2 linked regions of the Homo sapiens genome follow. The protein of the gene in region 1 purifies or fractionates together with the protein of each later gene. This does not show direct contact. Each region holds a gene or a part of one and is shown in the gene's direction. Other genes may lie near its edges.

Region 1 (3,500 bases):
GCCTGGGCAATAGAGCGAGACTCTGTCTCAAAAAAAAAAAAAAAAAAAAAAAAAAGTATCTCTGTAGAGGCCATATTGGAAGGGATTATCTAAATTCAGTGATAATATATCTGTTTGGGGTTAGTTGTATCTGGTTAACATCTGACCTGAAGCCATTTGCCCAAAGGTTTAAACACTCCTTATGACAAGCTGCCACAAGGCAAGGGCATCAGATCTCTTTAGTCAAGGCAAGTTTCTCAGCCTGTATACTGATTATGTTTTGGGCTGGATAATTATTTGTTGTTGGGGCTGTCCTGTGTATTGCAGCGTCCTGGGCCTTTGCCCACTAGATGCCAATAGCATCCCTTTCCCCAATGTGGCAACCAGAAATTACCAAATGTTACCTGAGAGCAAATCCTCTTTTACTTCTCCCATCCACTATTGAAAATCAGAGTCAAGGGTCAAGGACTACAAGACACTAGAGCCCCAGCCTTTTATGAAGGCATCTGAGCAGGACATTGACTGGGTGTCTGCATTCTCTTCACGCTGAAAGAATTCCACCCCTGAATAGAGAGGCCAGCTTTTATGCCTTATACTGCTATTAAGTTTATCATTGTCTGATTTTAAAACTATATTTTAACTTAATGCTTATAATTTTAATTCTTCTCTTCTGCTGTTTATTATGTTTACTTTGCTAACTGTATTGACTTATTCTTTATTCTTCCAGTATTTATAGTTAATCTCCCTTATTGTATAATATCACAACTTTTTTATATTGTTTGTAATTTTAGCTTTTTTGATATCCTCTTGGTTGGTCTTATTTATTCTTTCATTATCATTTTGTTGCATTTTCATTATGTTACATAGAGAATATTAATAGTTTATAATATTAAATAGATCACATGGGAAATAGTCACTCCTTTATCACTTTGAATTCATGGGTATATTTATGCATTTTCTTCTTATTGAAGTTCTTGAGGTTTTGTAGAAGATATTTGAGGCTCTTGGTGTTTTCTTGTTTTTTGTTTCATCATTTAAAATTATCCACCATCTGGCACGCACCTGTAGTCCCAGCTACTTGGGAGGCTGAGGCAGGAGAATCGCTTGAACCTGGGAGGCGGAGGTTGCAGTGAGCCGAGATCGCACCACTGCACTCCAGCCTGGCAACAGAGCGAGACTCCGTCTCAAAAAAAAAAAAAAAATTATCCACCATCCCCCATAGTAGAGTGGGTGCAAACTTCTGAGGAAGTCGTTATACATGCTCGTTTCATGTTTTTCTTCTTTATACATGCTCCTGTTTCATGTTTTTCTTTATACATGCTCGTTTCATGTTTTTCTTCTTTACCTTGTGCCTTTCTTGTTTTTCTTCTTTACCTTGTGCGTTTCTTCTTGTTTCATGTTTTTCTTCTTTACCTTGTGCCTTTCCTCCTTTTCTGCAGTGATAAGATTCATGGGTGTTGTCATAGGAAGCAGTCTACTTTCTTCCTGTCAACTCAGTACTGATCATTGCAAATTAAATACTTGTATGTTCATTTAAAAACTAATTACTGGTTTTCCAAAGAAGCATCCCTATTGTGGGAAGAGATCTTTAATGGTAGTTGGAAAGTATAGTGATAAATAAAATCCCCTCTATATATTCATATATTACCTAATCTGTATATATGTAATTTCAAGACTTGTATCTGAAATAATCAAACCTAATGATTGTTTTTTTCAAGTGTGAGAACATGTGCCATTAAATATTTTCTCTTAAAAGTCAAGGAATAGTGATATGACCTATTTTTTGTGGATTAAAATCATGTGGATGAATCTTATAGGTGTAAGAGCTCTCATTTGACAGAATAAACTTCACTAAGGAAATAGCCTATGGAAAAAATTGTATAGGATACAGCAATAACTATATTAACTTACCTTATGTTCTCCAGACTTTTCTTCACAGGAATTAGAGATTTTCATTTGCTCCTTTTCCTCCTCCTGGCTTCAAATGTTTGTTGCAGAGGCAGTCTTTAAAAAGTTGTGTCTACAGAGCTCTGGCAGTGTTTCTTCTGAGCCACTCTCTCTTCAGAAAATGGTAAGTACCTCTCTATTCTGGTTCTTTACATTTTCAAGAAGTGAGTTCACAAACTCAATTTTATTTATTTAGTTATTTATTTATTTTGAGATGGAGGCTTGCTCTGTCGCCCAGGCTGGAGTGCAGTGGCGCAATCGCGGCTCACTGTAAGCTCCGCCTCCCGGGTGCATGGCATTCTCCTGCCTCAGCCTCCCGAGTAGCTGGGCTACAGGCGCCCACCACCATACCCAGCTAATTTTTTTGTATTTTTAGTAGAGACGGGGTCTCGATCTCCTGACCTCGTGATCTGCCTGCCTCGGCCTCCCAAAGTGCTGGGATTACAGGCGTGAGCCACCACGCCTGGCCCACAAACTCAATTTTAAAAAATTCTTAGTTATTTCAAGTAAGTAGGCAGAATATATTAATTCATAAATATTTCAATTCTGTATAAAAGCTAGTATATTTCTGTCTCTAATTAGAGTAATGAAAGCCAGCGGCCGTGCTGAGTGCCTGTAGGTGAGTGCCTGCAGGTGAGTGCCTGTAGTTCCAGCTACTCAGGAGACTGAGGCGGGAGGATTGCTTAATCCCCAGAATTTGAAGCTGTAGTGCATTATGGTTGCACTTGTGCATAGCCACTGCATTCCATCCTGGACAACATAGTGAGACCCCTTCTCCAGGGGCAGTGGGGGGAAGGTAATCACCAAATAGAAATTTTAAGGCCGAGCATGATGGCCCCTGCCTATAATTCTAACACTTTTGGAAGCTGAGGCAGGAGGATCCCTTGAGCCCAGGAGTTCGAGACCAGCCTGGGCAACATAGCAATACTCTGTCTCTAAAAAAAAGTTAAATTAGCTGGGCATGGTGGCACATGCCTGTGGTCCCAGCTACTCGGGAGGCTGAGGTGGGAGGATCCTTAATCCCAGGAGGTCGAGGCAGCAGTGACCTGTGATAACCACTGTACTGTAGCCTAGGTGGCACACTAAGACCCTGTCTCAACAACAACAACAACAACAACAACAACAAAGAAAGAAAAGAAAGGAAAAAGAAATTTTAATTACTTTTGAGCGTAGCCAAGGGTTGATCATAGAAAACTAAAAAATCCTTGTTTCCTAATAAAATTCCTACATAGGTTATTATTTTGGAAAGAACTAGATCCAACAAAATTCTAAATGGTATTTAAAAAGCAAAATATTATGCATATAAGCTACATTTGATTTAAAGTTTTCCAGTTTTATTTTGGCTATCTTTAGATATTAATATTTAATAATAATTATTTATTATTATTAATAAGGCAATATTAATTTAGATATGTAGATATTAATATCTATCTTTAGATATTAATATCTTTAGATATTAGTCAAATTCTGTTTTGCAACAATCCTTTAAGGATGTTTTTATTCCTTATTTTGTTTTCTGTTGAAGAAAGACTTGTTTTCTGTTCAAGGCATTATCAGAATGGAAATTACAAAAT
Region 2 (3,500 bases), about 82 Mb from region 1:
TATTATGCCTTCGTTTCTAAATTTTCTCTAAGAACCCAGTGAAAAATTCCCTCATAATCTTTGTACTCTTGTTCATTTGTTTATTAAGTTCCTCTTAGAAGTTAGATTGCTGAGTCAAAAGGTGTGCCCTACTTTATATGTAGCTAACCCTTGAAGAACACGGGGATTAGGGTTGCTAACCCCCCCGTGCAGTTGAAAATTTACATGTAACATTTGACTCCTCGAAAACTTAACTACCAGTGGCCTACTGTTGACTGGAAGCCTTACCAGTAACATAAGCAGTTAACTCATGTTTTGTATGTTATATGGACTCTTACGATAAAGTAAGCAAGAGAAAAATGTTAAGATCATAAGGAAGATAAAATACATTTACAGTACTATACTGCATTTGTCAATACCATAGGTTTACATCGTCTGTTTACAAGATAAATCATCTGTCTGAAATAGGGGACAACCACAGCTGCAGACCTCTATCTACGGTACATCTCAAGCGATTCAGCTTTTCTTATGTCATGACTTTTCTCTGTTTCTTGAGAGCACATCCAGCATCACTAAGCACTTTGTATGGGTTTCATGGTGTTATTCAAGGTTTACGATATTACCCTACACATGATTAAACAAGTATATGTGGAAAAAAACCCAGGAGAGAACACTTGTTACCGTGATACACAGTTTACTGGGAAGTAGTGCAGAAATTGATTAGTGTCACGTGGCGTTTTAAGTGGATCCTCACAACACTTGAGCCCACCACAGCAGCAGCAGATGTCTGTGGTAGTAGGACATTATTATCACGGTAGTACAGTGTAGTCTATGGTAAATTTTATGCAGTTGTGATACAAATTAAAAAGAAAAAAATAATGAATTTAAAAATATGCAGTTGTGAGTTAATATTGCATCTTTACATTTCTGTCAACTGCAGATGTCACCATCTATGGTCAGTAAGTGATTGTGTGCATAAATTTTGATAAAGTTTAACTTTGTATAATAGATTTGTGTTGATTTTATGGTAGTAAATGGATAAAATAGGCTAGTATCTACATATATTTTATGCATTCAGGACATATCTTTTTCTTAGTTTTTTTCAATTTTTATAGGCTGTGGAGTTCATCTGTGAGTTTTCCAAATTGTTATAAATCGCCAAAAAATTTTCCAATATATTTATTGAAAAAAACTCTCTTGTAAGTGGACCCATGCAGTTCAAACCTGTGTTGTTCATGAATCAACTGTATTGCCAAATTTCCTACAGAAATTGTGCATTAATATTCTTACCAGTGGTATATGGCCAATCATATCTCTTTCTCTGCTGCCTAGTCACCCCTAGGTATTGTTACATTATTCCATAAATATTTATTGAACACTTATTATATACCAGGCACTCTTAGAGGTGCTGGGAATACATCTATGAAAACCAAGTCCCTGCCGTCATGGAGATTTCATTTTACTGAGGGGACACAGATAGTAAACAACACTATAAATGTAATGTCAGGTGATAATACAGAGTGTTAGGGGAAAAAATACGGTATTTTTGTTCTTTTAATCTTTGCTGTTTGATAGCCAGATTCCATAAGATGTCATTATTTTTTATTTTTTTATTATGATTCATTTATTCAATAAATATTTATTGAGCATATGCTGTAACCCTGGGGACCAGAGGTGAACAAGATGATAATGGAACTACATTCTACTGTGGAAAGATAGGCAGTAAACAAACTAACAAATAAGAGAACAGTATAATAGTAACTTTGGTGGGATTGGGAACATTTGATTGTGTTTTCAGAGAAGGCCTCTCTGAAGAGTTAATATTTGACCTGAGACTAAAATGACAACAAATTAGTTATAAGATCTAGATGAATAAGGCATTGTCAAAGGGAACAACAAAACCAAAAGTTTGGAGGCGGGAATGAGCATGACTTACTGGAAGAATGGAAAGCCAGTGAGGCTGCAATGTAACGACTGATGGACAGAGTCAGAAGAGATGAGAAGTAGGTAGGTTAGGTTATAGGGCTTTGGAGACCACAATAAGGGATTTGGATTTTATTGTAATACAGTAAGAAATCTTTGAAGGTTTAAGCAGGACAGTGACATGATTTGATTTACTTTTTTTTTTTTTGGAGATGGAGTCTTGCTCTGTTGCGTTGCCCAGGCTGTAGTGCAGTGGTGCGATCTCGGCTCACTGCAACCCCCACTTCCCAGGTTCAAGCAATTTCCCCCACCTCAGCCTCCCGAGTAGCCGGGACTACAAGCACACCACCACGCTTGACTAATTTTTTGTATTTTAGTAGAGACGGGGTTTCACCATGTTGGCCAGGATGGTCTAGATCTCCTGACCTCATGATCCACCCGCCTCGGCCTCCCAAAGTGCTGGGATTACAGGCGTGAGCCACTGCACCTAGCCTTGATTTACATTTTTTAGAGATGACTTTAGCTACTGTGAAAAGAAAAGATGGTAAGGTAGGGAGACCATATAATTTATCATCCAATTGGGAAACTTTTGCAAATGAAAAGGGATGCTAACTGGACCAGGATGTCAAGCAACAGGTGAAAACTGGAACTGTCCCAAACAAAGCAGAAGTGTAGTCACCCTACTGTAAGAGGGGAAGAGTGAAATTAGGGAGATCAGTTAGAAGGTTGGCTGTAGTAGTCCAGGTCAGAAATAACTGTAGCTTGGACTGGAGTGGTGGTACAGACTGGGAGAGTGGAGGGATGTAGATATTTAGTAAATAAAATCAACAGGTCCTGATAACTTGGATGTGGATAACAAGGGAAAGGAAGGAATGAAGAAGGATGCCCTGAGTTCTGGCTTGAGCAACTGAATGCATGTTGGTGTCATGCATTGAAATGAAGCAGACTTGGGAGGAACAGGGTTAGAGGAAAGATTCAAGAGTTCTGTTTTGAAGGTATAAAACTTAACGATGCCTGTGGAATAGCCAACTGGAGATGCCAAGTATAACATTTGTACTGAGTTTAGAGCTCTGAAGAAAAGTCCTGACTAGAGATACAAATTTAGTCTTGTTAGCGCATAGGTTATAGTGAAGTCATTGACCTGGATAAAATCATCTAGGTTGAGGTGACAAGAGGAAGAACATCCAGAACCTAGCCCAAGGGAACACCATAGTGTCCCAAGGGAGGAAGAGCAGCTAGTGAGGTTGGAGATAAAGGAGTGTGCTCACATGCAGTACAGCCAGACATCTTGCTTATGTTTATTGGAAACACATAGGGTATGTGTGCAAATTCCCTATGCTTGTCCTTTGCCCATTTTTCTGTTGCAGTGTTATAATGTTTCTTTTTTTTTTTCCTTTTTTTTTTTTTTTTTTTGAGAGGGAGTTTCACTCTTGTTGCCCAGGCTGGAGTGCAATGGCGCAATCTCAGCTCACTGCAACCTCCACCTACCTGGCTCAAGTGATTCTCCTGCCTCAGACTCCCAAGCAGCTGGGATTACAGGCATGTGCCACCATGCCCAGCTAATTTTATATTTTTAGTAGAGACAGGGTTTTACCATG

What was found. Proteins that work in one complex are often made in the same cells at the same time.
Region 2: the proteins of SLF1 (region 1) and SIMC1 purify together in Homo sapiens (co-immunoprecipitation; one large-scale study listed by IntAct). This does not show direct contact.

What each region holds. Positions count from the first base shown.
Region 1 is NC_000005.10:94,684,669-94,688,168, forward strand, and holds part of SLF1 (SMC5-SMC6 complex localization factor protein 1), read left to right. Parts: intron 1-1,904; coding exon 1,905-2,050; intron 2,051-3,500. UniProt on the Homo sapiens protein: Plays a role in the DNA damage response (DDR) pathway by regulating postreplication repair of UV-damaged DNA and genomic stability maintenance.
Region 2 is NC_000005.10:176,241,424-176,244,923, forward strand, and holds part of SIMC1 (SUMO-interacting motif-containing protein 1), read left to right. Parts: intron 1-3,500.